Linked DNA regions of Homo sapiens: regions 2 and 3 are each linked to region 1. The links come from fine-mapping of genetic effects on gene expression. A gene starts in region 1. Each other region holds a variant in brackets. All regions are shown on one strand. Distances are between the middles of the regions. Region 1 holds the start of TENT2 (terminal nucleotidyltransferase 2). Region 2 overlaps TENT2 (terminal nucleotidyltransferase 2). Region 3 overlaps CMYA5 (cardiomyopathy associated 5).

Region 1 (10,169 bases):
AACCAACACAAAAACCAAAGTGCAACATGGACCAAAAGTTTTTTTCTTTTTAACAGCTTCTTTGAGGTATAATTGAGACATAATAGGTTGTACATGTTTTTTCCTATAAATACACAAATGAAACTACCAGAATAATCAAAATAATGAACATGGGTATCACTCCCAAAAGTTTCTTTGTATTCCTTTTACCTCTTCCTCCTGCCCTTCTTTGCCCTTCCCCATCCCCTACACCCTCATCTTCCAGGCTGCCACTCACCTGCCTTTTCTCACTAAGGATTTGTTTGCATTTTTTGGAATTTTATATAAATAGGATCATATATACTTTTCAAAAAATCTTTTTCTTTCACCGATTGCAATTACTTTGAGATTAATCCATGTATCATTGCTTGTGTCAATAATTTATTTTTATTCTGAGCCGTATTGTACTGTATGGATATACCATGAATTGTTTATCCATTTACTTGGTTTTAATTTTCTTTTTTGTTTTTTGAGACGGAATTTTGTTCTTGTTTCCCAGGCTGGAGTGGAATTGCGCGATATCGGCTCACTGCAACCTCTGCCTCCTGGGTTCAAGTGATTCTCCTGCCTCAGCCTCTCGAGTAGCTGTGATTACAGGCATATGCCACCCTGATCGGCTAACTTTGTATTTTTAGTAGAGACGGGGTTTCTCTATGTTGGTTAGGCTGGTCTCGAACTCCCGACCTCAGGTGATCCACCCACCTTGGCCTCCCAAAGTGCTGGGATTACAGGCGTGAGCCACCGTGCCTGGTCTGGTTTTAATTTTTATCTTAAATTTATTTTTAGTTTTGTTTTTAGAGATAGGGTCTCACTCTGCTTGTAGTGGTAGAATCAGAGCTCACTGCAGCTTCAAACTCCTGGGTTCCAGTAATCCTCCCTCTTCAACCTCCCTAGGAGGTAGGAGCAAGTTTGTCCAAACCTCAGTCCACAGGCTGCATATGGTCCAAGACAGCTTTGAATGCAGCCCAACACAAATTTGTAAACTTTCTTAAAACATTATGATATTTTCTTTCCAATTTTGTTTTTTCTAGCTCATCAGCTATTGTATTTTATGTGTGGCCCAAGACAATTCTTCTTCCAGTGTGGCAGCCAAAAGATTGGATACTCCTGGTATAGGTAGAAATGGGGGTCTCACTGTGTTGCCAGGCTGGTCTCCAACTCCTGGCCTCAAGCAGTCCTCCCACCTTGGCTTCTCAATGTGCTGAGATTACAGGTGTGACCACTCTCAGCCCATCTGCCTGTTAATGGGTATTTGTGTTACAGGTTTTTTAGGTTTTTTTTTTTGTTTTTTTTTTTTTTGGGACACGGTCTTGTTGTGTCACCCAGGTTGGAGTGCAGCAGTGGTGCAATCACAGCTCCCTGCAGCCTCCACCTCCTAAGCTTACACGATTGTCCTTCTTCAGCCTCCCTAGTAGCTGAGATTGCTATTTGTTTTTAGTAGAGACAGGGTTTCGCCAAGTTGCCCAGGCTGGTCTCCAACTCCTGGCCTCAAGCAATCCTCCCGCCTTGGCCTCCCAAAGGGTTGGGATTACAGGTAATTACAAATACAGTTGCTATGAACATTTGTGTACAAGTCCTTCTGTGGACATGTGCTTTCATTTCTTTTGAGTAAATACCTAGGGATGGAATGTCTGAATCATATGCAAATAAATGTATGCTTACCCTTTTAAGAAACTTCCTAAGTTTTTTCCAAAGTGCTTGTACCATTTCATATTCCCATTAGTAGTGTATGAGTTTCAGTTGCTCTATGTTCTGACAAATTCTTGGTATGACTAGTCTTTTGGAATTTACCATCAAATAGGTAGGGTATGTTGTTGAGGTCTTAATTTATATTTTTCTCTTAATCTGTATTTCTTCTAATGACTAATGATGTTGCATATCTTTTCATGCCTTTATTTGTCATCCATATATGGCTTCTTTGATGAAATGTCTCTTCAAACCTTTTGCCCATTTTTTTGGGTTACTATTGAGGTATGAGAGTTCAAAAAATAGACACTCTGGATATAAATTTTTTTTTTTTTTTTTTTTTTTTTTTTTTTGTGGACAGAGTCTTGCCCTGTCACCCAGGCTGGAGTGCAATGGCGTGATCTCGGCTCACTGCAACCTCTGCCTCCCGGGTTCAAGTGATTCTCCTGCTTCAGCCTCCCAAGTAGCTGGGACTACAGGCGCCTGCCACCATGCCAGGCTAATTTTTGTATTTTTAGTAGAGTCGGGGTTTCACCATATTGGCCAGGCTGGTCTCGAACTACTGACCTTGTGATCCACCCACCTCGGCCTCCCAAAGTGCTGAGATTACAGGCGTGAGCCATCTTGCCCAGCCTGGATATAAATTATTTACCAGGGCCTGGCATGATGGCTCACACTTGTAATTCCGGCACTTAGAGAGTCTGAGGCAGGTGGATTGCTTGAGTCAAGGAGTTCGAGACCAGCCTGGGCAACATGGGGAAACTCCATCCTCTATAACAAATACAATAATTAATCAGGCATGGTGGTGCACACCTGTAGTCCCAGCACTAAGGAAGTTGAGGTGGGAGGATCACTTGAGCCTGGGAAGTCGAGGTAGCAGTGAGTCGTGAGCATGCCACTACACTCCAGCTCTTTTGAGACACAGCAAGACCCTATCTCAAAAAAAAAAAAAAAAAAAAAAACAACCACACACACACATTCTTATCAGATACGTGATTTGCAAATAGCTGCTTCAGTTTTTGGCTTGTCTTTCCATTCTCTTTCTGGGGCTGCAGTGACCTATCATAATGCCATCATACTCCTGGGCTCAAGTGATTCTCTGCCTCATCCTCTCAAGTAGCTGGGACTACAGGTGCATGCCACCATGCCCGCCTCAAATTTTTGATGCTGTTGTAGATGGTATTTTAAATTTCAATTTCAGATTGTTTATTGCTGGTGTACTACAAATGCCATTGACATTTGTGTATTGATTTTACGACCTGTAGTCTTGGTCATTTATTTGATCTGATAGTTTTTTGTAGATTTTGTGCCAGAGTTTTCAATAAATAAAACAAATAAAACCAGTTTTACTTCCTTCTTTGCTAATTTGAATGCCTTTTTTTTTTCCTTGCCTTATTGCACAGGCTAGAATCCCCAGTACAATATTGAACATAAGTTGTCAGAGCAGAAATCCTTGCCTTGTTCCTGATCTTAAGTTGAAAGCACTGTTCTTCACCATTAAGTGTGATGCTTTTTATAGACACTCTCTATCAAGTTGAGGAAGTTTCCTTGTAATCTTAGGAATGGATACTGGATTTTGTCCAATGCATTTGCTGCATGTATTGAGATTATCAAATGGTTTTTCTTTTTTAGTTTGTTAATATGGTAAATTACATTGCTTGATTTACCAATGCTAATTCAACCTTGCATTCCTAGGATAAGCCCCTGTTTGGTTATAATGTATTATCTTTTTTATATATTTTTATGTATTTATATATTTATATATCTTTTTTATATAATCTACTTTTTACTGCCTTGTCTCATGTAAACCTGTGTAATTTCCCATTGGGTCCACCTTAGGAAACAGTCTTTAAAGTTTTCTCCGTAAAGCAAGTACCAGTATACTCTTTTATGGTCAATACAATGCTAATTCAACCTTGCATTCCTAGGATAAGCACCTGTTTGGATATAATGTATTATCTTTTTTATATACTGTGAAATAAAAGTGACTAGAATTGTGCATATTATGTTTATGAGAGATATTGGTCCATAGTTTGCTTGTTTAATATCTAGAGTTTGGGTATTAGTGTAATGCTGGCCCCACAGAATGAGCTGGGAAGTATTCCCTCCTCTTCAATTTTTGGAGGACTTTATCTAGAATTGGAATTATGTTTTCCTTATATATACCATGTTAACACCCTACAAAAGAAAGCCTAAGTAGCTGTAATACTATCAGACAAAATATACTTCAGAGCAAAGAACATTATCAGCAAAGAGGAGGGTCATTTGTAAAGTGGATAATTTCATAATAATGAAACTTTCATAAAGGATAAATTCATACAAATAAGAGAATAACTATGTTTATGCAACTAATAGCTGAGCTGCAAAGTACATGAAGCAGAAATTGATAGAACTACAATTGAAAAAAACCAGTAATAGTCAGAAATTTCAATACTCTCAATAATTAGTAGAATAAGTAGACAGTAAATCAGAAAGGATATAGATTTGAACACTAATATCAACCAACTTGACATGATTGACATTTATAGAACACTCCATGCAACAACTGCAAAAAACACATTCATTTCAAATGCACAGTGAGTATTTACCAAGACAGACTATATACTCTGGGCCACAGAACAAGTGTCAATAAGTTTAAAATTATTAATAGTGTACGAAGTACCTTCTCTGATCACAATGGGATTAAATCAGAAATCAGTAACAGGCAGCTACCTGGAAAACTCCTCCACATTTGCAGACCAACACTTACAAAAAACCCATGGTCAAAAAAAGAAAGCAATAGGGAAATTACAAAGTATTTTGAAATGAAGGAAAATGAAAATACAATATATCAAAATATGTGGAATGTAGCTAAAACAGTATAGAGGGACACTTATCACACCAAATGCCTGTACAAACAAGAGACATCTAAAATTAATGGTCATCAGTTTCTGAGTTAAGAAACTAGAGAAACAAAACAAGAAATTTAAAAATTAAAAAATAGCAGAGTAAAGGAAACAATAAACATAAGAGCAGAAATCAATAAAATAGAAAACAGAAAACCAGTAGAGAAAATCCAAGAAAGCAAAAACGGGCTTTGAGATTTGAGATCCGTAAACCGAGAAGCCCCTCACCAGATCGATCAGAAAAAAAGATGACACACAAATTACCAATTTCAGAACCTGAGGGGTCAGATTTTATAGACATTAAGTGGACAATAAAGGAATACAGCTAACAGATTTGCATTATTAAACAATTTAGACATTTCTACAAATTATTAAAGCTCACTCAAGAGGCGATATCAATAAATATTTGTTGAATTAGTGAATACCAGCTATTACTATGGGCAAGGCGCTAAGTCCAGGCTTTAGAGAGAAAGAAAGCATTTTTTTTTTTTTTTTTTTTTGAGACAAAGTCTTGCTCTGTCGCCCAGGCTGGAGTGCTGTGGCACGATCTCGGCTCACTGCAACCTCCGCCTCCCGGGTTCAAGCGATTCGCCAGCCTCAGCCTCTTGAGTAGCGGGGTTACAGGCGCACGCCACCAAGCTCGGCTAATTTTTGTATTTTTAGTAAAGATGGGGTTTCACCATGTTGGCCAGGCTGGTCTCGAACTCCTGACCTCGTGATCCGCCCGCCTCAGCCTCCCAAAGTGCTAGGATTACAGGGGTGAGCCACCGCGTCCGGCCAAAGAAAGCATTTTCCTTCCAAAGAAGCTCTCAGGTTACTGGAGGGGCAAAAGAACAGATAAAGTTTAATGTTGCTCCGGGGGAGAAGATTAGGGGAACACTGGTTAAAGAAAGGCTTCTCTGGGGACAAGTCACTCGGCCAACACACGAAGGACCCACAGAAAACGTCTGTTACAGCTAGAACGGCTGCACGTGAGTTCAGGCAAGGGGCCCAGAAGTGGCCCTCCGGCGACTGCCTGCTCCACCCCTCTTAGTGCAGTCCTAACCCTTTCCCAACTTGTGCTGGCAGCAGTTAAGAAACTCCTTTCAAATCCGGCTGTCTTGCGCCTGCGCATTCAAGCAAAGCGCTCATAGGCGGGGTGGGGGGGGTGGGGGGGGTTGGGGGGTGGGGGGGGTTGGGGGGTGGGAGGGAGGCGGCCACCGGAAGTGTGACCTTTCGCTCCCCGCTGCCTATTCTCATCCGGGGTCACGTCGGTCTTCCGGGTGTCTTTGACAGGGTTTTCTACGCCGCTTTTTCGGCGACTTTTTGCTCTTCCGCTTTTTGCCACCGCCCCCAACCTTCTATATCCTTGCAGCCCCTACCTTTTCTTGTGTTGCTCCTCCCCTGGCAGCCGTGAGGGGGGTTAGATCTCAGCCGGAGCCGGAGCTGGGCCTAGCTGTCCCACGGGCCACCACTACCTCCTTTGGTTCGGGAGAAAGCTACGACCAAGTACGCCCAGCTCGGGCCTTAGAACTTCTGAACGGGCAGTGCGGGTAGGCCCTGCTTAGCCCTTCCCGGAGGACACCTGTGAGTTTAGGGGGTTTCGGAGAGGAACGCAGCAGTGTAGGCCCAGGTCGGCGGCGGGGCACGGGAAACTTTTCCGAAACGGTAGCGTTTTGTTTTGCGTGGGAGGTTCCAGCAGTATCTCTTGGTTATTCCAAATTTATGGGCGGCATCTGGGCTGCTGTACATTTTGAAGAATCTTAGGACCGCTTACTTTGCTTACTCGTTTTCTATTCCTCGCGTACTGCCTCGTCCACCACTCCAGGACCAAAAGAGGAAGATAGTCTTGGGACCCTTGCATGGTGTTTCAAAGGGTGGTGAAGAACTAAGGTACGTAGCTGGATTAATTAAAAAATTTAAAAGGCATTTATCTTTTAAGCCTTAATTAAATGGCATGAAATTGCTTCAGCTTTTCACTTTATAGGAAAATGCACAGGTTAAGACTGTTGTGTGCGTTTCTTTTCTTGTTCAGCCTTTGTAGAAAAGCTCTTCGTCTCTCAAGGTGAGAACACGAAAGGCTTATATGTCTCAAAACTTATGGATTCTCTAAATTACTTGTCTTATCTCTTTCAACTCTTTGTTTAAAGTAGCAGATATTTTTCATTAGGGTGAACAGAGAAGAAACAAAGGGAAACTGTAAAACACAAGCTAAATAACACATGTGCAGTGTATGATTTTGTGAAGAAAGAGATTGTAACTGATTACTAAATCTGTGTTTTTATATTACAGGTAACATAGTAACTTTTGTAAATATCTTCATATTGTATGGTTCAGTACCACCAGGCTTCTAACACGTACTGATTAACAGCCATAAGGCTATTAATTTATACTGATTAATAGCCAGTAATAGTGACGTTACTTTGTTGGTGTGAATAGCCCTAATTATGTCTGTTCTGGAAATGTCCTGTAACAGGTTCCATGTGAAATAGGCCGTTTATGAGTTGTTTAAGAAATGCCCATTTGGAGCCATGTGACTAGATTATTTTTTTGAACACTTGGGTGTAATTTAATTCTTAACCAAAAGGAATATCCTGTTCAAAACCTGGAAGTAGTTTTCACAGTGGGTTGGCAGGATTTAGGAACTGGATTTTTCGTATTGTGGAGAAAAGTGGGTTTGAGATATCAAAGGTATTTGGACAAAATGGACAGTATCTTGGTTTAGCCAGTAAATTTCTGGTTTTCATTCTAGGTATATTCTGCTTTCTAAAGAATCCTGATGAAGGAATTATATATAACCTTGAGTGTTCTCTAATTTGTTGGAGGAGAGGTCAAGTTGAGGACAGAAATTCCAGGTTGCAAATTCCAGGACCAAATACTTTATAACTAGAAATTACTAGGAATTAATCTTTTTTTTTTTTTTTTTTTTTTTTTTTGCAAGACGGAATCTTGATCTTGTCACCCAGGCTACAGTGCAATGGCACTATCTTGGCTCACTGCAGCCTCTGCCTCCTGGGTTCAAGCGATCTCCTGCCTCAGCCTGCCGAGTAGCTGGGATTACAGGCACGTGCCACTATGCTTGGCTAATTTTTGTATTTTTAGTAGAGGCAGGGTTTCACCATGTTGGCCAGGCTGGTCTCCAACTCCTGACCTCAGGTGATCCATCCGCCTCGGCCTCCCAAAGTGCTGGGATTACAGGCGTGAGCCACTGTGCCCGGCCGAATTAATCTACTCTTTTACTACCTTGTCTCATGTAAACCTGTGTAATTTCCCATTGGGTCCACCTTAGGAAACCGTCTTTAAGGTTTTCTCCGTAAAGAAAGTACCAGTATACTCTTTCATGGTCAAGTACAGATTGTGGAACTGATAACTTTTAAGGTAAGGAAAATTGGATATTGCCAATATCTGGATTTTATGTATCTATCATAAAATTTGTCACATAGGAGATGGTAGAAGACCATAGTTAATGTGGAGTAACGTTTTATATAGCTAATCTCTACTTAAGAAACCTTTCATTCAGAGTATGAAGAAAATGATTTAAAATTTTGTGGAGGTCCCCTTATTTCTGTTACAGTAATAGTTTTACTGTATTTTGTGAAACTCTACAGTCTCTTTAAAAAAATGATTATGTTGTTTATGATAATTGTTTTGATGTCATTTTTATTTTCATCAAAATCAATGTGAAATGTATTAGAAAAAGGCATAGAAATTCATAGGCGTTTCATTTACTTCCTCAACTCTAGATGTCTTTCAGAATACCTATATTGGTGAGCATAGAACGAATGCGTCGGAATGATTTTCCTCTACTTGAAGCCTACCTTCTTTAAAAAGAGCCTGACTTGAGGGCCAAAATTCATACTGAGGAGAGGCTGACAGATCCTTTGTTTTGCAGGGGCTCCAGAGCTTGATATATTTCTGGGAATTTGGAATATGCTAAACTAGATTTCTGCCCTAGACTAAACATCTGGCTGTGGACTCAATCTAAGTTTTTAAGCTGGGGATAATTTGGTCATTAACTTGGTAGAGTAGTTCTGAGCCACAAGTCATCTTTAGACTTAGTTTGGATTTGGCTGTGTAAGAGATGAAAACAAGGTGAGGCCTGGGCTCTTGATGTCATTTTGCATCTTCAAATCTTAATATACATGGACCTTATTCAGTTATAGAGGAAAAACAGCATATTTTTTATAGGTATAAACAAAAGTATCTAGGCTTTTTGCTATGAACCGATTTAAATAAACCTGAAAGTACAAGATTTTAATTCTAGTTTTTCTGAATACATATTTCTTCCATTCACTAGATTTGTAGTGTCTATTCCAACAAAATGAACTATCAAGCAAAATTTGTTACAGTGAATTGTATTTAATATCATTTTCTCATAAATCCTATGAAGTAGGATCCTATGTTTTATGGGAAATTAGGTTAGGGAACCAGAGTAAAAAAGGCCAAGAAGGAGTGTGAGCCTGAGCAAAGGGTGAAAAGTGTTCGTTGCCAGTCTTGAATCTGGCAATCCAAGATTTTTCTTTTTTCTTTTTTTTTTTTGTTTTTGAGACAGGGTCTTGCTCTGTTGACCAGGCTGGAGTGCAGTGGCACAGTCTCCTCGGCTCACTCCAACCTCCGTCTCCCTGGCTCAAGCGATCCTCCCACCCCAGCCTCCAGAGTAGCTGGGACTTCAGATGCAGACCACCACACCTGGCTAATTTTTGTTGTGTGTTTGTTTTTTTTTTGAGACGAAGTCTCGTTTTTTCGCCCAGGCTGGAGTGCAGTGGTGCGATCTCTGCTCACTGTAACCTCTGCTTGCCAGGTTCAAGCGATTCCCCTGCCTCAGCCTCCCAAGTAGCTGGGATTACAGGTGTCCACCACCACGCTAGCTAATTTTGTATTTTTAGTAGAGACGGGATTTTGCCGTGTTGGCCAGGCTGGTCTCGAACTCCTGACCTCAGGTGATCTGCCCACCTCGGCCTCCCAGAGTGTTGGGATTATAGGCATGAGCCATTGCACCCGGCCTAATTTTTTTTTTTTTTTTTTTTTTTTTTGAGATGGAGTTTTGTTCTTGTTGCCCAGGCTGGAGTGCAATTGCGCGATCTTGGCTCACTGCAACCTCCGCCTCCCAGGTACAAGCGATTCTCCTGTCCCAGCCTCCCAAGTAGCTGGGATTACAGGCATGTGCTACCACGCCTGGCTGATTTTTTTTGTATTTAGTAGGGATTTCACCATGTTAGTCAGGCTGGTCTTGAACTCCTGACCTTAGGTGATCCATCTGCTTCGGCCTCCCAAAGTGCTGGGATTATAGGCGTGCAGCCTAATTTTGTATTTGTTGTAGAGATGGGGTTTTACCGTGTTGCCCAGGCTGGTCTTTAACTCCTGGGCTCAAACAATCTGCCTGCCTCAGCCTCCCAAGGGATTACAGGCATGAGCAACTGCCCAGCCCAGGATTATTGTATGTATTTTTGCTAGGGGATTCCCTGGAATGCTGCTTAGTTCAAGATATTTCCATTTCCTCTGAAGAAGCTAGGGTGTACAGGTGAGGAAATATGACAGGATTATTTTCTTTTTTAAAAATCTCTTGTAAAAAGACATAAGGGTCTGCTAAAGAAAGTTGAC
Region 2 (10,169 bases), 37 kb after region 1:
AAAGCTAATTGTTGACTTAAGCCATTTTATTTTACGATTTTACTTTTTGAATACACTGACTCTAAACATATTTTAATCCACATGTTAAGCCATCTCAAATAATTTCTTTTAAACTTCCATAGAATTTTATAGAAAGTTGAAGTTACACTGTGTGATATTGGAAAGACACTTGTCCATTTGTTGAACAGACATTCATTATGTGCCAGGCTTTGAGCTGGAAAGTACAAGTCAAGTAACAAGTCACTGTCTTTGAATAACTTACATCTGTTCTAGGAGAGAAATAAATGATTTATTTCAGTGGACCTTCTGCATTCTGAATTATTCTGTAAAATAAAGAATAATTCATACCTACTTGAATTTTTAATAGCTATTTGAATCAAAATATTAAAAATGGAAGGGCCCTTAAAGATCATGTAATTCACATGAATTTTTTTTTCTTTTTCTTTTGGTTATTTTTAATAGTTAAGGAAACTGGTGATCAATGGATTTAGTAACTTGCCTGGAGTATAGTTTGTTGGTCTCAGAACCTGTACTTATTACTCAAAACTTTTAACTCCTAATTTTATTTTTCTGAATTCCTGCTCATAAGTTCTATTTTGAAGCTTGATATATTCTTTTTTTTTTTTTTGAGACAGAGTCTCGCTCTATCACGAGGCTGGAGTGCAGTAGCATGATCACAGGTCACTGCAACCTCCACCTCCCTGGTTTAAGCGATTCTCATGCCTCAGCCTCCTGATTAACTGGGATTACAGGTGTGTGCCACCTCACCTGGCTAATTTTTGTATTTTTAGTAGAGACAGGGTTTCGCCATGTTGGCCAGGCTGGTCTTGAACTCCTGGCCTCAAGTGATACATCCACCTTGGCCTCCCAAAGTGCTAGGATTACAGGTGTGAACCACCAAGCCCAGCTGATATATATTCTGTAATTTTGATGGTAAAACATTGTAACAGAAAATTTTCAGGTTTTAAAAAATCCCGGTACTACTTTTTCTGTAGTTAAAAAATGAGAAAATTGCTCATTTGGGAAAGATTTTCAGAATTTCATTTTTACACACTTCTGTATTTTCCTAATTTTCTATGATAAGTATATATTACTTTCAACTCTAATTTTTTAGTTTGATGGAATAAAAATATGTATGTACATTTTATTATATGTTGTATATGATATATGTATGTATGTAATACATATCTGTATGTGTATTTGAATTTCCTATCAACTCATACTCCTTTGTATAATAGCACAATAATTGGTGTTCACTAAGCTGATCTGAATTTTTCACTTGTAGAGATCATGTATATAATATATGTATTTTTCACTCATAGAGATCACACTTATCGAATGCATCCAAGCCCCGTGTATCATGTTGCAAAGCATTTCCACACATAAGACTCTGTAATTATGATTTCTACAGTTACCATGATACCTTACTGTGTGCTGTACCAAAATTAGCTATTCCCTCTGCTGCTAGCCTAGATATATTTTCACTCTTACAGTGGTCTAATGAACTTCTCTATAGATACTATATTAGATCACATTCCTGAAAATAACCTTAATATAAAGCCCCCTAAATGGTATTACTGGAGCCTCCAACCTTAGAAGAATTTGATAATGTCCTCACTTGTATTCTTTTTCAAAGACGTTTTCTTAAATTATTTTAGCTTAGTAAATACTATTTTTTAAAAAATGTGCGTTGGAACACTGTGAATTCTAGAAACATTTGCAGCTATTCACATTATCTTTTGTCTTTCAGCGGGCTACATTGAGAGACCTCAGCTGATTCGAGCAAAAGTGCCAATTGTGAAGTTCAGGGATAAAGTCAGGTAAATAATTAATGAGCTTTCTTTTTTTAGTTCCTTTAGATCATTTTTAGATACTCATCTGATAAAGATAATTAAGAAGTGTATGTTGTAGCATTACAGTTTATTTTAATCAGTTTTTAGAAATCATTTGACTTGGTGTTTGAAATGGTTTTTTAAAATTGAGCAATACTTTATGCTTAACTGTACTTAGCTATTCTGCTTGACATTTTGAATATGTGAGACTATCTAATTTAAAGAGTACATATTTGTATTTTAGATTTTTAAATGATCTCTTGCCTTTTGGAAGTGTAATGCATTCTGAAGAATATAATTAATGAAATTTGACATGTACTAATATCAAGGGGTTTGTTTTAAATACAGTTATGATTAAACAAGTTGTGTTTCATTTTTATGAAAGATACATATAATACCTAGAGTAATAGATATGAAAGGAAAACAGCAAAATATACTTGTTCCATTTCAAAATTTACATTTATATATTCTACCAGCTTGGGTTCTGAATGTCTTATGGGCATTGGAATTGTTTTGTAAATAGATGTTGATTATTTCATTAGTTAAACTGATTTGTTACTGTTTTCTAAAAATAGAATTGTGACAGATTTCATAAAATTTGTCCAGTTTTACAAAATTAATACTGAAATTGTGCCCACAAACACACACACACACACATTGTTGATCCTTATCATTCATAGTTTGTGTTTTCACGAATTTGCCTACTTGCTAAAAGTTATTTGTAACTGCCTACATGAATATTCATACGCTTTTGTGGTCATTTCGTGGACATACACAGAGTAATGAAAATTTCAGATCACCCAATACCATGTTTCCAGCTGAGATAGAATTAGGTGACACACTGTCTTCTTGTTCAGCTTCATACTGTAAACAAATAACCTTCTCACAGTCTAATTAATGCCATATTTTTCACATTTTTGTGCTTTTTTGCTATTTAGAATGGCCCCCAAGCATAGTGTGGAGTTACTTTCTAGTGTCCCCAAGTGCAAGAAGGCTGTGATGGTGCCCTATGGAGAAAATATGTGTTAGGTAGGCTTCGCTCAGGCATGAGTTATAGTACTCTTGGCCATGAGTCCACTGTTAATGAATCAACCGTATATATTAAATACAATGTCTTCAAATAGAAGCACAACATAAAACTTGGTTATGTATTGATGAGTTTATGAAAATGTGACCAGGCTGGCAGATACCTAACCCTGTGCTTACCCTAGGAGCAATGGTATAGTATTCACTAATTCAGTGTTTGCAGCAACTTTATAGAACGTAGCTACTATGAATGATGACTGAATATATATATTTTAAACAAACTTTAATGCCTGGCTCAAGCCATTCCTTTATATATCTAAACATCAATCAGATCTATAAATACTTATTAAATTTCTGCCAAGTAAATTGTGTCAGATTTTCCTAAAGCAGATATAAAATATATAGGGAGATAAAACATAAAGTTATAATATTAGCTAATTATAAGTTTTTAATAATATATGGTTGTAGTTATAGTTACAAAGGTAGTTTTATTCTTTTTCTATTTAAGATCATCCTGCAAACTTTTTTTGTTCCTAAGCTTTTTTTTTTTTTTTAAGAGACAGGGTTTTACCATGTTGCCCAGGCTGGAGTGCAGTGGCATGATCATAGCTCACTGTAACCTCAAATGCCTGGACTCAAGTGATCCTCCCATCTCAGCCTACTGAGTAGGTAGGACAACAGGCACACACCAACACACTTGGTTAATTTTTGTATTTTTGGTAGAGACAGGGTCTCGCCATGTTGCCCAGCCTAGTCTCGAACCCCTGGCCTCAAGCAATCCTTCTACCTTAGCCTCCCAAAGTTCTGGAATTACAGGAGTGTGCCGCTGCACCTGGCCAAATCCTGCTTCCCAACAGAACCATATCTCATGAATATTTGGTTATATCATTAAATAGTGTTCTACAGCATCATTTTTAATGGCTTTATAGTATTTCATTGAGTGAATAAATTGTCATTAACTTAACCATTCTCCTGTATTTGAACATTTGGTGTGTTTCTGGTTTTTAGATAATATAAATAAGTATTTTGTGCATAAATGCTTTCCATATTGAGGATCACTTTTTTAGTATTTCTAGAAGTAGTGTTTGAAGCAGGAACTGTGGATATTTTTAAAGCCCTGAATTCAATTTTGGAAAAATTTTTAACTGCAGACTAGTTGCCATCTATGTGTTTTTCTTTTCTATTGAGTTACTATGTGGATGTAGTACAAATTGGCTTCAGTGTTAGAATTACACAAACACAAAGAATAACTCTATTATTACTGTAAGTTTCCCAAAGCCAAATAACGTATAATATCTGAAGTGTTAATACTACTATCCATTTTTATTAATATGCATGGATAATGGAAAGATTGTAAGATTTTCTTTTGTTCCACCAAATAAGAAAGACTGAAATGGTAGATTTCAAATTTTATACTTAAAAGCTATAATTAATATAGAAATATTTTGTTTTTATTTTAGACAGTCTTTTCACAGAAAAAATTAGTATTTAGAAGTTGGGATCTCGCATAGGTATGAGTAGAACTGACTTACATAAAGTAATCCTTAATTTTTTATGAGTTTAGCCATTTTTTATACATTGCATCATTATTGCCGTATTTTCTAAATTATGAACTGCATATATTTGCTTTCAAAGAAGTAATCATTATGTGTTTGAGTAGTATAGATAGCTCTTCCCAGGTATCAATAGCCAAATTTGACATGATACTGTAATTTACTAGCCTTTTTAGAGGAAATATAATGTGTAGACAGAGCTTTTAAATTATTTCCCCTGTATTTAATTTGGCTTTTTATTCCTGTTGTTTTAAAGTATATGATGCTATAATTCCAGATTATTTGAGAGTGTATAACTTAATGGGATAACTTGCTCAGAAATGTTTTTGGTCACATAGTTTTGTTTATCTGGAAACTTGTGAGATTTAAAAATTTTCGGCTGGATATGGTGGTTCCTACCTATAATACTGGTGATTTGGGAGGCTGAGGTGGGGGAATTGCTTGAGCCCAGGAGCTTGAGGCTGGAGTAAGCTATGACTGTGCTACTGCACTCCAGCCTAGGCCACAGAGCGAGACTCCATCTCTTTAAAGAAAAAAAAAAAGATTTAAAAATTTTATTTGGGGTAATTGGAGCCTTAGCAGTATGTTACTGATCTTTCCACTGGAATCTTATTTTATATTTTCAGTACTCATCAGATCACATTGAAATAACATACTGAGTATTTGTTCATTCTTATTTCTTTAGTGTGTCATTTTAAAAACACAGATCTATGGCCTTTGGGCCCATACTATTTTGCATCATGGGATGGATGAGCATTAATTTAGTTATTAGGAAGGAAGTTTTTTTGTTCTTCAGCTAAAGTTTATTTATTTATTTATTTTTTCTTAAATAGTTGTGTGGAGTTTGACTTGAATGTAAACAATATTGTTGGAATAAGAAACACATTCCTTCTCAGAACTTATGCATACCGTAAGTTTGTTGTTTGTTTATTAAAAATTAGCCTTTTTTTCTTTATTCATTTTTAAAGATGTTTGGCATAAATAGTGACATCTCTTTAGTTGTGTTTAAGTATAGTGTATCTTATTTTATTTGTATATGTTGCTACACTAAAATCATATACTGTCAGTTATAGGTGAATCAAGTGGCATTTTAATAATTGATAATTTTTAAAAGGTAACTAAGGTAAGTTTTAGACATAAGACACAAAGTGAACAGACACAGTGTTTAATATACACG[G/A]AGACAGTGTTCTTTGTTTTGGTATGGAGCTGGGAAATGATGTAAACTTTCAAAGAAACTATAACGTCTCTTACCATGTTAAGTTTTAATTTTACTTTCAGTTGAAAATCGAGTTCGTCCGTTAGTGCTGGTGATTAAGAAGTGGGCAAGTCACCATCAGATAAATGATGCCAGTCGTGGTACTTTAAGCAGCTATAGTCTTGTATTGATGGTTTTGCACTATTTACAAAGTAAGTATAATGGGGTTTTACCCAATTTTTAAAAGTAAAAGACAGCTTTATTATGGTGTCTTCTCTGTTGACCCTATTTTCAAATAGTATTGTTTTAAAAGTTCTTTCTAAGGTCCATGAAACACATTTCCTGTTTTGTTGCTTTGGACAAATGTTTCAGAAGTGTTATTCCTTGGAAAATATAGAAGTTTCACTGTTTTTTTTTTTATTTTTTGGAAGTTTTTCTATAGTCACTTTTGTTTTCAAAGAACTTTCACCACTGTATTGTGGACCCATTATCTTGAAGCAGACGAATGTTCAAAAGGCCTATAAAAGTTAGCTCAAGTACTATTCATCATATTTTTAATTTTGAATTTGAGACAGGAATTAAATTATTTTCCTGTTGGTTAAAGAAGCTTTTAATCTCTGAGTTGCCCTCCTTAACTAGATTTTATCTTCATAGGGCTGTTTTATCAGATTGGCTCCCAAATTTTAATTTTGTCTGGTTAGTCATTGTTTATGAGGCCATTCTGGTAAAAGCTATACTTTTGTCGCATGCATAGTGGCAAACAGTAATAAGTGAACACTTGTAATTTGGACCATTCATAAGTGTGAGAATTTTTACGGTACTGAAAATTTCCTAGACGTATAGGACAGACTGACTGGATCTATTTGAAACCCTTACTTTCATATTTCTCAAAAATATCTTACATATGTAGCAATCCAAGAAATAAACATTAAGCTGCTTTATACTTTCTACTTAGCCTGACACCAAGAGTTGTTAAAAGATGGATGCATCTACTGTTTTGTAGTTATTAGACCAGGAGACTGAGATGTTTAATAACTAACCAACTGAACATATGAATATGTGGTGACATGAAGACCGAGTGAAAGACTTGGTATGAATGTAGTAGAAGACCGTTTGCCAGGATGTCTGGGGCTTGATCTGTTCTGGGTTGGTGATACTTCCACAGTTTAGAGTCTTGGTTTCCAAAGATTACAATAATAGGAGAAAACATATTTTAGCATATATAATACTCATTTCTTCATTCTATGAATATGTATAGAATACCTACCAAATAAATGCTAGGTATTCTAGGATCTGAGAATACAGCAGTGAACAACATACAAAAACAATTACCTTCTTCATGAAGCTTACATTTTTGACTTGTAAAATGTCACATTTTCATAGCTGTTACCTACCAAAACGTGAATTATTAAACAACTCACAGATTACTAATAAAATGTGACATTTTTACCACGGTTGTGAATTGAGCTGCTGATAGAGCACTATCAACATGTGATATGCTCAATAATAATTATTACAGTGTAGTCATTAAAAAAAAGTATTGAAAAATATCCTTTTATTGCATTGTTTGGTGCTCCTTGTATTTAGATTCTGAGAGGGATAACAGATAATATTAGCAATTTTGTCAACAGCAGCTTGGGCTTGGAAAGTTGAGATGATTTGATGCCCTTATAGCTGTGTTTCTGTACTGAGGATACTGGGAACTGGGAAAAGAAGAAGGCACCTTTCCTTATGCTATAGATCAAAAATGGTTAGGGTTGGGGATTACAATTTTGTTAACCTAATTCCTGGTAGACTGGGCTTCTTTGGATAGGGATTGGAGGATGATACCCAAATTGAGAATTTCTTTATAGTGAGTCACTTTTACTAGTATAGGAGGATAGATAGAAGTGGTTGGGACAAAAACAAAGATTGTCTTACCAATGCCTTAAAAAAGAGCAGTTCAGAGGTGAGATTGGTTGTCAGGAATTCTCTATTTTGTTTCAGAATTATTATGTTTAAAATAATACTTAAAACGTAGTGATATTAAAAGTTATTTTACATTTTAAAATTCATTTTGAATAAGTTGTGTATACATTTCATAGAAAATCCTGAGAATATACTAAAGTGGACAGAAAAAAAATACATTTCCCATGAATTTTCACACCCAAAAATTGTTATTGTTAATATTTGTTTTATTTTTTCTGGCTTTTGTTTTTTTTGCAAAGGTTTCAAGATGTTTAGCCAAATATAAATACATAAATGTCAAGTTCAGGTCTTTTAATTCCAAAAGTTGGGGACAAATAAATAACTGTAAAGGGTGGATGTTCTTTTTTCCTCTACAAAAACATGGTCTTCTTAAATAATGTTCTTACATTTTCTTTTACCTGTTCATTACATGATTCTCAGACTTTTAGATTTCAAGGAAAGTAATATCCAAAAAAAAAAGAACCAAACTGGAGTTTTTATTTTGCTATGTTAAGTATTAGAACCAAAAAACTGCTACCAATTACTACCATCACTTCATAAAAGATGGTGCATAAAATACCAAAAAAGCAATGATATAATCTCAGAATAATGGACAGACCATCACAAAACAGTCTGATTGTTACACCCTTTCCACTTTTGGCACACACACACACATTTTGATTTTTTTTGTTTATGACAGCTTAGTAACCTTTCCTCTATGGTGGAGAATTTGGGGAGCATTTTTTCATATTTATCTTAATTGAAGTAGTCTTAGAGCTAGCTAGTTCTCAAGAAAATCTTGATTCTACCTTTAGACACATCTTCATCCCATCTTTGTCTGGAGATAGGGTGCCATTATTTGACTAAAGTGTTTATGTTAATGTTCTTAATTTCATAGTGTGTCAACCTTGTCCGTTCTTGGTAATCAAAGTTTTATGGTATACTCCTAGGGTGAAATTGGCATTCTACATTCTTGACAGAATATAATCTTATACTCTGTCCTGTTACTTACAGAATTTCACTTGAACATGTATTACAGATGTAGGGATTAATATTCTTAAATTGGCAGTTTTTAATAATGACAAAATGGAATACACAATCATGCTGAGAGTGTTGATTTGGTACAACTCTTTTAGAAAGCAGTGTTGTATATTTGTGTTCATGTCCTTTGACTCAGTTATTTCATTTCTAGAAATTTATCCTAACGTAATAATGAGTGGTACATATATGGATGTACATGTAAAGCTATTTTTTTATGGTGTTACGTAAATAATAGAAGATTAGAAGTACTCTTAAATTTTCTAGAATAGGGGAATGGTTAAATTAATTACGATATACCCTAATATGAGATCTACATAGCCACCAACAATCATGTTTTTAATATATTTAATGATACAAGAAAATGTTCATGATATATTCTCATACATCATAATACCAATTTTATTTAAAGATAATAACTGTGTATATATATTTGTATATATACAAATACTGAAAAGGTAGGTGCCAAAATTGTATCAGGGTTATTTGTGGACAGTTTAGCAAAGTTCTCTGTACTTCACTATACTTGCAGATGTTTTATAATATATGAGAGTATATTTTCCTTTGGATGCTGGTCTCAAATGATTTTTTTGACTTATCGAGAGAGACAAAATAGTTTAAATGGGCCATCATTTTATGAATCAGTCATTAGAGAGGTTTGATAATCTTCTTTAATGTTAAAGTAGTTCAGGCTAATCTTAATACATGTATTTTTATTGCTGACCAGTCTTGAATATATACTGGTTTGATGATTGATTTGCCCCTCTAAAAAAATTTGAAACATATGACATTGGCTGTTTTAGATAATACTTTGTGTCATTAATCATTTTTGTCCAATTTTACAAAATATATGTCAATCTTGAACATATATTACTTTATAATATATGTTACTTTATAATATATGTTCAGGTGAACTCTTAACATATTTTTTTCAGTGAACTCTGTTCTCTTGTGGGTTACAGTTTACTTTCATTAAAAATGGAATAGGATTTCTTATATATATAAAATATAAAAAATATGTGGCACCACCATTCCCTATTTATATTTTAGTTGTGATTTAAAAATGAGATTTGACTAAAGCATTTAGCATACATGATCATCCATAATATGTGCCCTACTCCTTAATTCTTACTGGTTACCTTAGAAATTTTAAGTTTGACTGACTTCTTTAGAAAAATGTACGTAAATCACAGATGCCCCAATGTGGTATTGAAAGCAAATTAAAAATTTTAAATTAGGGCCAGGCACAGTGGCTCATGCCTGTAATCCCAAGTGCTTTGGGAGGCAGAGGTGGGAGGATTGCTTGAGGCCAGGAGTTTGAGACCAGCCTGAGCAATATAGTGAGACTCCTCCATCTACAAAAATAAAAAATGAAAAAAATTAGTTGGGCATGGTGGCACATATCGTTAGTCCTAGCTACTCAGGAGGCTAAGGTGGGAGGATTGTTTGAGCCCAGGAGTTTGAGGTTGCAGTAAGCTATGATTATGCCACTGCATTTCAGCCTGACCAGCAGAGTGACTGTGTCTTAACAAAACAAAAAAATTAAACATTGCTATTTTGCCAGTCTGATCAAATCAT
Region 3 (10,169 bases), 96 kb after region 1:
TCTTTTTGGATGTCAGATGTCTGCTGGACCAGCAGGGGGCCCCGGGCTAGGCTTTTCTTCAGATTTTGTTACCTGACCCTCAGATCATTTAACACAGGATGCAGTATATTTTGCTATTTCTGTGGATGTACAACACTTTGTTTAAGCAATAGAATAAACTAGTTAATATTTCCCAAGGAAATTTAATTGAAAATACAACATAGGTCAGTGAACAGATAAAACCATATGAGGTTGAAGTTTTCCCCCATTAAATATCAGCTGAATCTGAGTATTCACTGTTTATTCCAGCATGGACATTCCATTTTACAATAAGAACAAAAAAGTCTTTCACTCTGGCCTCAATATGACCTGTCTTACACACCTTGGTATTTCTGCTTTGAGGTTTCAAAACTCCTTTGAGATCGTATCACTGTTTGCTATTATCAGGAATTTAATTCCTTCTAAAGCCTTTTGGTCTGTATGCCTAGGGTAATCCTCCTTTGGAGAATTGTCACCATCTCACAGGTGGGCTATAATAGAGTGTATGTATGACCCTGGTTCAGGGGAGAAATCAGACTCCAGTAGTGTCAGATTGTCTTCTCTGGTAAGTTGGAAATGGAGGCAGAGATTCTCTTTAGTTAGCTTGGAGGTTTGGGGGACATTTCTCAACTTTTTGGAGATCTAGTCAACTTTATTTTGATCTTTTCTTGAAAATTATTAATTTTTCTGTCAGTCAAAAAATATTCTAGGGCCGGGAACAGTGGCACATGCCTGTAATCCCAACACTGAAAGGCTGAGGCAGAAGGATTGATTGAGCCCAGGAGTTTGAGGCCAGCCTTGTCCACATAGGGAGACCCCCATCTCTACAAAAAATTAAAAAATTAGCTGGGCATCGTGATGCGCACCTGTAGTCCCAGCTACTTGGGAGGCTGAGGTGGGAGGACGATTTGAACCCAGAGGTCAAGGCTGCCATGAGCTGCGATTGCACCACTGCACTTCAGCTTGGGCAGCAAAGTGAGACTGTGTTAAAAAAAAAATTCTAAATGTACATCTGTGAAACTGTCCAAACTGTCCAAGATGTGGTAAAGAAGAATATTAGCTAAAATTGCTGAGCATAATTTGGTATCTAAGATGGTGTCCAGGAAAAAAAAAAAAAGGTATTTAATGCTAAATAAAAACTCTCTGTCAAGGCAGGAATCCCAGAGTGTAGAAGGGTGGGGAGGTGACAATCCATAGGGAAAGGGTATGACCCCCACTGTGGGTCTGAATGCTGTATCACACTCAAGTGTGTTTCTGAAACCTTAAAACAGTTCACCCAAAGTAGAGCGACCAGAATCCTGTGAGCAGACCCTGTGTGCAAGGGTCTGAAAGCCATTCGAACTGGTCCTATCACCCAGGAGAGGCTCCATCCTTCATCAAAGCAAGTCATGCCAACAAGCAGAAGTTTTCCTACCCCTTTATTTTTGTTCTCTTGGATATAGATATTAGAAGAGGGAAAAGCAATAAAATATCTTTTCTGAAAGCCAGGAGTCCCTGCCTTTGTTCTTGGTTGATCTCTTAATCTCTTTGGGAAATAATTTTCTGTTACTGAGGGTGCCATTTGGGGATAGCTATGTTGAGAGAGAGAGAGGGAGAGAAAGAGAGAGAAAGAGGGAGAGAGAGAGAAAATACTTGTAGAGACAAGGAGAGACCAGAGCCAAATTGACACATCAGAGATAGAGTAGCTCCCTTGACTCCTGATGGTTTTCCTGTTTCCCCTTCACTGGGAGGCCTAAATATACCTCTGGCCCCTGGAACCTATGAGAAGTCTCTATTTCTTTAAAATAAAAACCCTCTATTTAACCTAGCCTGAAAGAGTTTGTTCCTTACCACCACAAGTGCCTTAACCCCTTCTTAACATTTCTAACAGCTTTTAAACATTTTTCTCCTGGCTTGGCGCAGTGGCTCACGCCTGTAATCCCAGCATTTTGGGAGGCCGAGGTAGGCAGATCATGAAGTCAGGAGTTCGAGACCAGCCGGGCCTAGTATGGTGAAACCCTGTCTCTACTAAAAATACAAAAATTAACCAGGCGTGGTGGCGCACGCCTGTAGTCCCAGCTACTCAGGAGGCTGAGGCAAGAGGATCTCTTGAACCTGGGAAGCGGAGGCTGCAGTGAGGCGAGATCGTGCCACTGCACTCCAGCCTGGGTGATAGAGTGAGACTTGGTCTCAAATAAATAAATAAAATAAAATAATTTTCTCTTGCAGGCCTTGGCAACACATGTGCTCTAAGCCAGAGCTAGCCAAAAGAACCCCTTAAAACTGGAGTTATGCCCAACATGTCCAGAAATACTATAAATAGATAGATAGATATAGTATTTTTTTTTTTTTTACAATCAGGAATGTTTTGGACATCAATAATAACCCTAACACTGAAACCCAAAGCTACCATTAGTCCTTAATCACCACAACATGCCTGCAGAAAATTTTTAAAAACCTGCTTCAGAATTGAAAGAACTTTTATTTCCCACCCACACATCTTCCCACTGCAAATATTTTAAACTTGATTGAACAGAGCTACAGACCTGAAGAAAGGTCTATATTGACCTAACACCAACTTAAGCATATATCATCCAGGAGCTGGTAGAGAAAAAGTCTTGATCAATTTCAGTTTGATCTCACCAATCAGCGTCTAGGACTTTCTTTCAATCTCTCCTGGAGTTCTCTTGGAGAACTGAATACTAGCAGTTCTCTGGAATGCACTGTTGATAGCCACTTGACCTCTTTGAGCCTCAGACTCTGAAAGAAGCAGGTACTGCTACCTGCTTCACAGGTACCTGTGGGGGTAAATGAGAATGGAGATACACAAGGACATCATATGTTCCTGGCACAGAGTGGGACATGGACGAGTGTCAGTTTTCTCTTCTCTCCCTTCCCCATCATCTACTAGTACCCTGAACTATTGCAGGATCTGGCCAGCAGCCCGCAATGCAACAGGGCTCTTTCTTTGTTCCCAGGTGGATCGGCAGGTCGAGAAATAATAGACACACGCAAGATAATGAAAGCTGGGTCCAGGGGAGTCACCGCCTTCTGGTCCTGCGATGCTGCCAATGTGCTGGATATACCAGCATTTATTATTAAGTTTAGTGAGGGCGGGGGTAGGTTAGTGAGGGATTTAGGGTCATTTGATTATGAGGTGAGATGGTCACATGGGGATGAAGTAATTCTTTAACATAACATCTGTATGCAGAAGTACAGTATACAGAGATAAGAATTTACAATATAGTGTGTGCATCTGTAATTTCTAACAGAGCCTTAAAACAGAAGCACAGTCTTTCCATAACCTGTGATTAGCAAGATATTAATCAGCAGTAACAGTTGCAGCAAAAGCTGGTTACAAACAATCCATAGAAACAGGACGTGAAGCTAGACAACCGGTTAGACCAGAAATTCTCAGAACGGAGTACGCCTTAACCCTAAAGAGGCCTAGAAGAGTCATGGCAAGATCAGGGCGTTTATAGCCCTATCTTATCCATATGAACAGGTGCCCCTCATGCGTCCGTTTATAGGCTCTCCACAAGGGTCTCATTCCATTCCCAGAGCTATGAACATCTGCTTTTCTGGGATAGGAATCTTGGTGATGTGAAACCTCCCTGACTGCACGTCCATTCATAGGCTCTCTGTGGGGGGAAGCACATCACGCGCTGTTGGCTCATTCTGGCAGTGCAACCTGGCATTGTCTTTACACAGTCCTGCATGCAATTTTGTATTTACAATAATCAGGAGCATTTCATCTTTTATTCTGTAGCAATAGTTTCAGGGGGTCTCCCTACACTGAACATGAGTTGTTTCCTAGGTTCATGTTGCCATTTCTAGCAATGCTATTCTTCAGCCAGCACTCCTTACCCTGCACCCTTAGTTGAGCTGCACTCCTAGATGTACAAATAACTCTTCTTAGTTTTTTTGCTTCGTTTTAATTTTAAATCAAAACTAGGTGTGAACTCCAGTGTGGACTGCACCTATCCTCACTAGTGTCTTTTCTCTAATTTTCTTGGTGTGGCTTGTTGGAAAATGTTAAAGCTTTCTAGTTAGTATTTGAATACATTTCAGGGTCCTAAATGATGAGTGTTAAAGCCCCACTGCAAGAATTGTCAGCTTTGAACAGAATAGAGCCAGGAATGATGCACCTGCAGCCACTGAGACATACAACTGGAACGGCCCACTCAGCATAACTTTATGAATGTTTCTAGCACTAGAAAGGATTTCATTTTACATTTCTATTTGTTTAAGGACTGTGTGTAGCTTGCCTTTTGAACACATAATACACACTCAAAGATGTTGACTAAGTTAATGAATAATAAATGATGATGAATCAATGAATTCAATGAATAATGAATGATACAGGGAAGAATAATTAGAAGACATATTAATTTTGCTTAGTTACACTTTCCAGAGGTAATCATTATTAAAGAGGTACCTTTTGGCTTAATTATAGGCTTATTAATAAATTAAAGTGAGTTTACATATCTTCAAAATTTGGACTTCACAAGGTTAATTCAACACTGAAAAGGAAAAGGAAGAGAAGAAAAATATTTTCATTTGTCATTTGCCTAGTATGACACGAGATGTTTTACATATCATTTCCACATAACTACCTTATAAAGTAGATATGAGCCACCTGTTGAACTAATGATGACCTTCAAGCCCCGGAAAGGAAGGGGAAGTAATTTGCCTGAGCTCACACAGTGCCTTAGTCTGTCCGTACTGCTATACCAAAATACCTAAGACTGAGTAATTTAGAAATAACAGAACTTTATTTCTCAGAGCTCTGGAGGCTGGGAAGTCTGAGATCAAGGCACTGCAGATTCAGTGTCTGGTGAGGGCTTGAACCTCCTTGCTGAGTCCTCACACAGTGGATGGGCAAAAGGCCCTAGAGTGCTCCCTTCAGCCTCTTTCATAAGATTGCCAATCCCATTTGTGAAGCCTCCATCCTCATGACTTAATCATCTCCTAATGACCCCAGCTATTAATACTATCACATTAGTGATTATGTTTCAATATATGAATTTTATGAGACACATTCAGACCATAGCACATAGCTAATAAGTAATGAAGCCAGGATTTAAACCTAGGCTGCTCTGAAGTCAAAAATGCTATTTCTACCATGCTGTTTCTATCCCACGGACTTAGCACTGTGGGGTATATTAAGATAATGACACATAGTTTCTGTCTCAAGAAACTTATTGTTAAGTAGAAGACACATGGCAAATACTAATCATAATAATAGAAAGTAACATTTGGCCGGGCATGGTGGCTCAC[G/A]CCTGTAATCTCAGCACTTTGGGAGGCCGAGGCAGGCAGATCACGAGGTCAGGAGATTGAGATCATCCTGGCTAACACAGTGAAACCCTGTCTCTACTAAAAATACAAAAATAAAATTAGCCAGGCGTGGTGGCGGGTGCCTGTAGTCCCAGCTACTTGGGAGGCTGAGGCGGGACAATGGCGTGAACCCAGGAGGCGGAGCTTGCAGTGAGCTGAGATTGTGCCACTGCACTCCAGCCTGGGCGACAGAGCAAGACTCCATCTCAAAAAAAAAAGAAAGTAACATTTTAAAAAATGGAGCTGGGTGTGGTGGCTCACTCCTGTAATCCCAGCCCTTTGGGCGGTTGAGGTGAGTAGATCAACAGGAGTTCGACATTAGCCTGGCCAACATGGTAAAACCCTGTCTCTACTAAAAACAGAAAAAAGTTAGCCAGGCGTGGTGGCTCACACCTGTAATCCCAGCTCCTCGGAGGCTGAGGCACAAGAATCGGTTGAACCTGGGAGGCGGAGGTTGCAGTAAGCTGAGATCACGCCACCATACTCCACTCTGTCACTCTGGGTGACAGAGCAAGACCCTGTCTCAATTTTTTTTAAATTTAATTTAATTTAGTTTTTTAAAAATGGTAGTTACCAGAGAAGTACTCTGCTGAATTCCAGTAAATCTGAAGTATTGTATTTCAGAGAAGAAAGTGAGGTAAGAGCCGGCTCAGTGACACTTTGGTTTTCTACAAACAGGTATCAAGGCAGGGCTCACATGGTACCCAGTGTTGCTAAGAGTATGGGTAAGAATGTGTGGCTCTCGTACACACTACTGATAGGAATGCAAATTAATCAACCTCTCTGGAGGGAAAACTGTCAATATGTGTAAAAAGCCTGAAAAAATTATTTTGCTTTTGAGTCTCAAATTCTACTACCATATTATTCTAAGAAAAAAAAATGTGCTGAAAGATGTATCTGTAAGGATGTTTATCAGAGTTATTATAGAGGAAACTTGGAAACAATCTAAATGTTCAACAACAGGGTACTGGGTAAAGAAAGTGTTACATGATGGAATGCTATGTTAACTATTAAATAGGAAGTTGTGGAACTGCAGTGATCAGTGATCAAAGTATGGTTTTCTTTCAGGGCATCCACAAGATCCAAACTATTTTTATAGTAGTTCTAAGACATTATTTGCATTTTCCACTTTCATTCTCTCATGACTGTATAGAGGATGAAAAGCTCATTGATTTTTTTTTTTTTCAGAGTCCACATTGCAACTAATCTTTAAAAAAACGACTACTTTTTAAGTTTTGGTGTGGTATAAAGAAAATATCAGCTGGGCGTGGTGACTCACGCCTGTAACTCCAGCACTTTGGGAGGCCAAGGTGGGCCGATTACTTGAGGTCAGGAGTTTGAGACCAGCCTGGTCAGCATGGTGAAACCCCGTGTCTACAAAAATACAAAAAAAAATTAGCTGGGCCTTGTGGTGTGTGCCTGTAATCCCAGCTATTTGGGAGGCTGAGGCAGGAGAATTGCTTGAACCCGGGAGGCGGAGGCTGCAGTGAGCCAAGATTATGCAACTGAGCTCCAGCCTGGGTGACAGAGTGAGACTCCATCTCAAAAAAAAAAAAAAAAAAAAAAAAAAAAGAAAGAAAGAAAAAGAAAATATCCAGAATTATCTAAAAATTACTCCTTCCTTTTCCAACTACATATCTCTGTGAGGCTAGATTTTCTTTATATATTCCTACTAACAGTACATATTCACATTTTGAATGCAGAAGCAGATGTGAGAATTCAGCTGTCTTCTGCTAGCCCAAACATTTAAAAGATTTGCAAAAATATAAAATAATGTCATTCTTCTCACTAAATGTTTTTGTTTGTGTGTTTTGGAAAATAACTTTTTATAAAATATGTTATTGATGTTGACATGTAGTAGGTTATTATTACGATTTTTAGATGAATTAATAAAAATTTTAAAAGTTCTGTTTTAATTGCTACTACCCTAAATATTGATAAATATAACCCACATGAACAAAAGCTTTTTGAGGTCCTCAATAATTTTTAAGAGTATAAAGTAGTTTTGAGACCAAAAGTTTTGAGAATAGTTGTTGTGGAAAAGTATATTTAATAGCATGAAAAAATGTTCAGAATGTATTTTTTAATTTAAAAAAAGCACATTACAAAACATATCATTTGTGTAAAAGAGGCACATCTCAGGATAGATTAAGAATGAAGAATGCTGATATATTAAAAGTGGTCATCTGAGTGCTGGGATTACTGGTTGTTTTAATTTTCTTTTTTTGTGTGCTTCTGTTTTCCTATATATCCTACAGTGAAATTTATATTTGGTTATTAGAAAAATTTTTTATTTTTACAGGTAGGACCTAAAAATCTTGAACTTTCCCCTGAGTTCAACTGAGGAATGGGGCAAAATGTATTAACAAGGGTGGTCTGTATTATGGTTTTTAAAACATTTTACTGGATCAAATGCACATCATTTTTAGTGGGTTTTTCTGTCTTTCTCTTTTGTGGGTGATTAATAAGAGAATCTTATGGGAAATTCAGCTTAATTTTTAGAACTCCTGAAGAGATGTAAGTGCTATAGTCTTATAACAATGATTTTGGGGATGCAAAGTTTTCCAATAATCTAACTTATTCCAATACAGTCCTCTATAAAAACAAAGCTATTGAATCTCCAATTCTGAGGTTTTACAAGTCAGAAATCAAAAGGCTACTAGCAAGTTATTTCCTAATGTATCAGTAAGGATTTTACTTAATCTCTTTGTTTTTTCCCCCTGTGGAATTTTAGAGACTTCTTTTTATAAGTTCTATTTTACTGTTGGTTATGTTTTAGGTAAGAGGTTTCTTGTGTTTTTCTGGTGGTGCTGTTTGAGCCTGATGATGGGTCCATCAGGTAGGTCGTCTGGGTGCTTTTCACTGGCAGCTCCACCAATAGCCAGGCTGCTGCTGATCTGCTTTCAACTTCAGAGGGATCAGGCACCCCTGCCACCAACCGTACCTGGCAGAATTTGTCTAAAGTGGAATAGCCACTAAAGGTGGTACAGAGAGAAAAAGAATGTAAACTACGTAGACAATTGCTTGGAAAGTTGAAGAGGACAGAGGCAAAGTTTAATTGTCAATATAGGTTTTGTTAGCAGACTTTGTAAATTATGTTCTTGAGAAATGAATCTTTCAGGTCGCAAAGGCTACATTGGAGAAAGAAATTAACCACTTTCAAAAAAAGATAAAGATTCCCATATACCCTTATAGATCATTGGTTTGAGAATAAATAAAAAAATGGGGGCTGGGAAATTTTCTAAACATTTTATGTATGCACAAAAGAACATACTTTCTAATACTGTACTTGAAGAAAACACAAAGTTAATGGCGCTAATAAGTTATCATCCAGAGCTGATCCAGCAGAAAATATTTGAGGATTTGTCAGTAACCATAATATAATGATTAATTTTTCTTGATGAATTATTGGCAGCATTAATTGTGGGCCTAGATTGAAATTCAGTGGAGGAGCACCCAGAAATTGAAGAGAACGTGTATGGTTGTTTTTCAATCACAATTTTCAGTATGATCCCCTTCCATCTTCACTCCCTCTTCGCATATGGTACAGCAGTATCTCAAGGATGCTTCTCTCCGTAGCTGGAGAGTGCCATCACTGGGCCTCCAGAGGACTCTCTCTTAGGTTTATCCAAACAGGCCCGGAGAACCAACACACTGCCACCCAAGTCTGTCTGCTGGCACCAGGCAAAGGGGTCCTCTCTCCTGAAACTCCAGGGCTGGGATGTACTTCACCTATCCCTGTTCATCCCAGGAGCATCTGCTGGAGTGAGACATTGGTGTTTTATTTATTTATTTGTTGTTTGTTTATTTATTTTTGAGTTGGAGTCTTGGCCTGTTGCCCAGGCTAGAGTGTGGTGCGTGATCTCGGCTCACCGCAACCTTAGTCTCCCAGATTCAAGCGATTCTTCTGCCTCAGCCTCCCAAGTACCTGGGATTACAGGTGTGCACCACCATGCCCAGGTAATTTTTGTATTTTTGTATAGATGGGGTATCACCATGTTGGCCAGGCTGGTCTTGAACTCCTGCCCTCAAATGATCCACCCTCCTCAGCCTCCCGAAGTTCTAGGATTACAGGCATGAGCCACCACACCCGGCCTATTTTTTTTCTTCTTAAAAAATGACAGAGAAAAAAAAAAGTGTTGCCAAACACTATATTAGGTATATGGACAAACCCCGATTCCATCTAATAGATGAGCTGGGCTTTATTTTTAAATGTATTACTATTATTATTTTCAAGGCTACAATGTAAGGGCTCTTTCTCTGTTGCAAATTTAATACAAAAAATTGCTGGAAGGCCATGAAGGAAATCTGATCAGATTTCTTCTACTTTTTGGACTGATTTGCCCTCATACTTCATGTTTTTATGGAGTTATAATTGTATTAGGAAAAAAAAGTCAGTGTAACAGGTGGGGAGAAGTCTATCATGGCTCACTGGTTTATTTTAAAAAAGATCCCAACCTGACATATTCTATTCAGATGAAGTGCTCTGTCTCTTAGTAACCACCACTCAACATTCATGGGAATTTGACAGCAGTGGCTGGCTTCTGCTCTGTGCTAATATTCAGTAGCTGTTGAAGAATTCCAGCACTAAACAGTTAAGCCTATTTAACTCCTTTGCTGGGAGTCCCAGGAACCTGAACATTCTCATCCTCCATGGTTTTTCACTTGTATCCTCAGCCAAGGTTGGTGTTGCCTATGGTTGAGTGTCTTTTCTCACTCTTGAGTCTGCCTTCACCAGTGGTTCTCAGCTATTACATATCTGAAGACATTTTTTATTGTCACAACCTGGGATGGGGTACTAATGGCATCTGGTGGATGGGGGCCAGGGAGGCCAC

The links.
Region 2: its variant is fine-mapped to the expression of TENT2 in whole blood (INTERVAL, PIP above 0.99).
Region 3: its variant is fine-mapped to the expression of TENT2 in whole blood (INTERVAL, PIP 0.92).

What each region holds. Positions count from the first base shown.
Region 1 is chr5:79,606,615-79,616,783 of GRCh38, forward strand. It overlaps TENT2 (terminal nucleotidyltransferase 2), which reads left to right and starts at 5,827. Exons shown (of 15, transcript NM_001114394.3): 1 at 5,827-6,461. LOC124901014 (a long non-coding RNA gene) reads right to left here and starts at 5,723. Exons shown (of 2, transcript XR_007058840.1): 1 at 5,528-5,723; 2 at 4,857-5,406. RefSeq lists an enhancer at 5,432-6,631.
Region 2 is chr5:79,643,373-79,653,541 of GRCh38, forward strand. It overlaps TENT2 (terminal nucleotidyltransferase 2), which reads left to right. Exons shown (of 15, transcript NM_001114394.3): 8 at 1,751-1,820; 9 at 5,245-5,321; 10 at 5,690-5,818. Among named protein-coding and RNA genes, the nearest start is that of TENT2, 36 kb to the left of the region's middle. The variant G/A (reference allele first, on the strand shown) is at 5,589.
Region 3 is chr5:79,703,083-79,713,251 of GRCh38, forward strand. The region is part of intron 1 of CMYA5 (cardiomyopathy associated 5); the gene reads left to right. Among named protein-coding and RNA genes, the nearest start is that of CMYA5, 18 kb to the left of the region's middle. The variant G/A (reference allele first, on the strand shown) is at 5,278.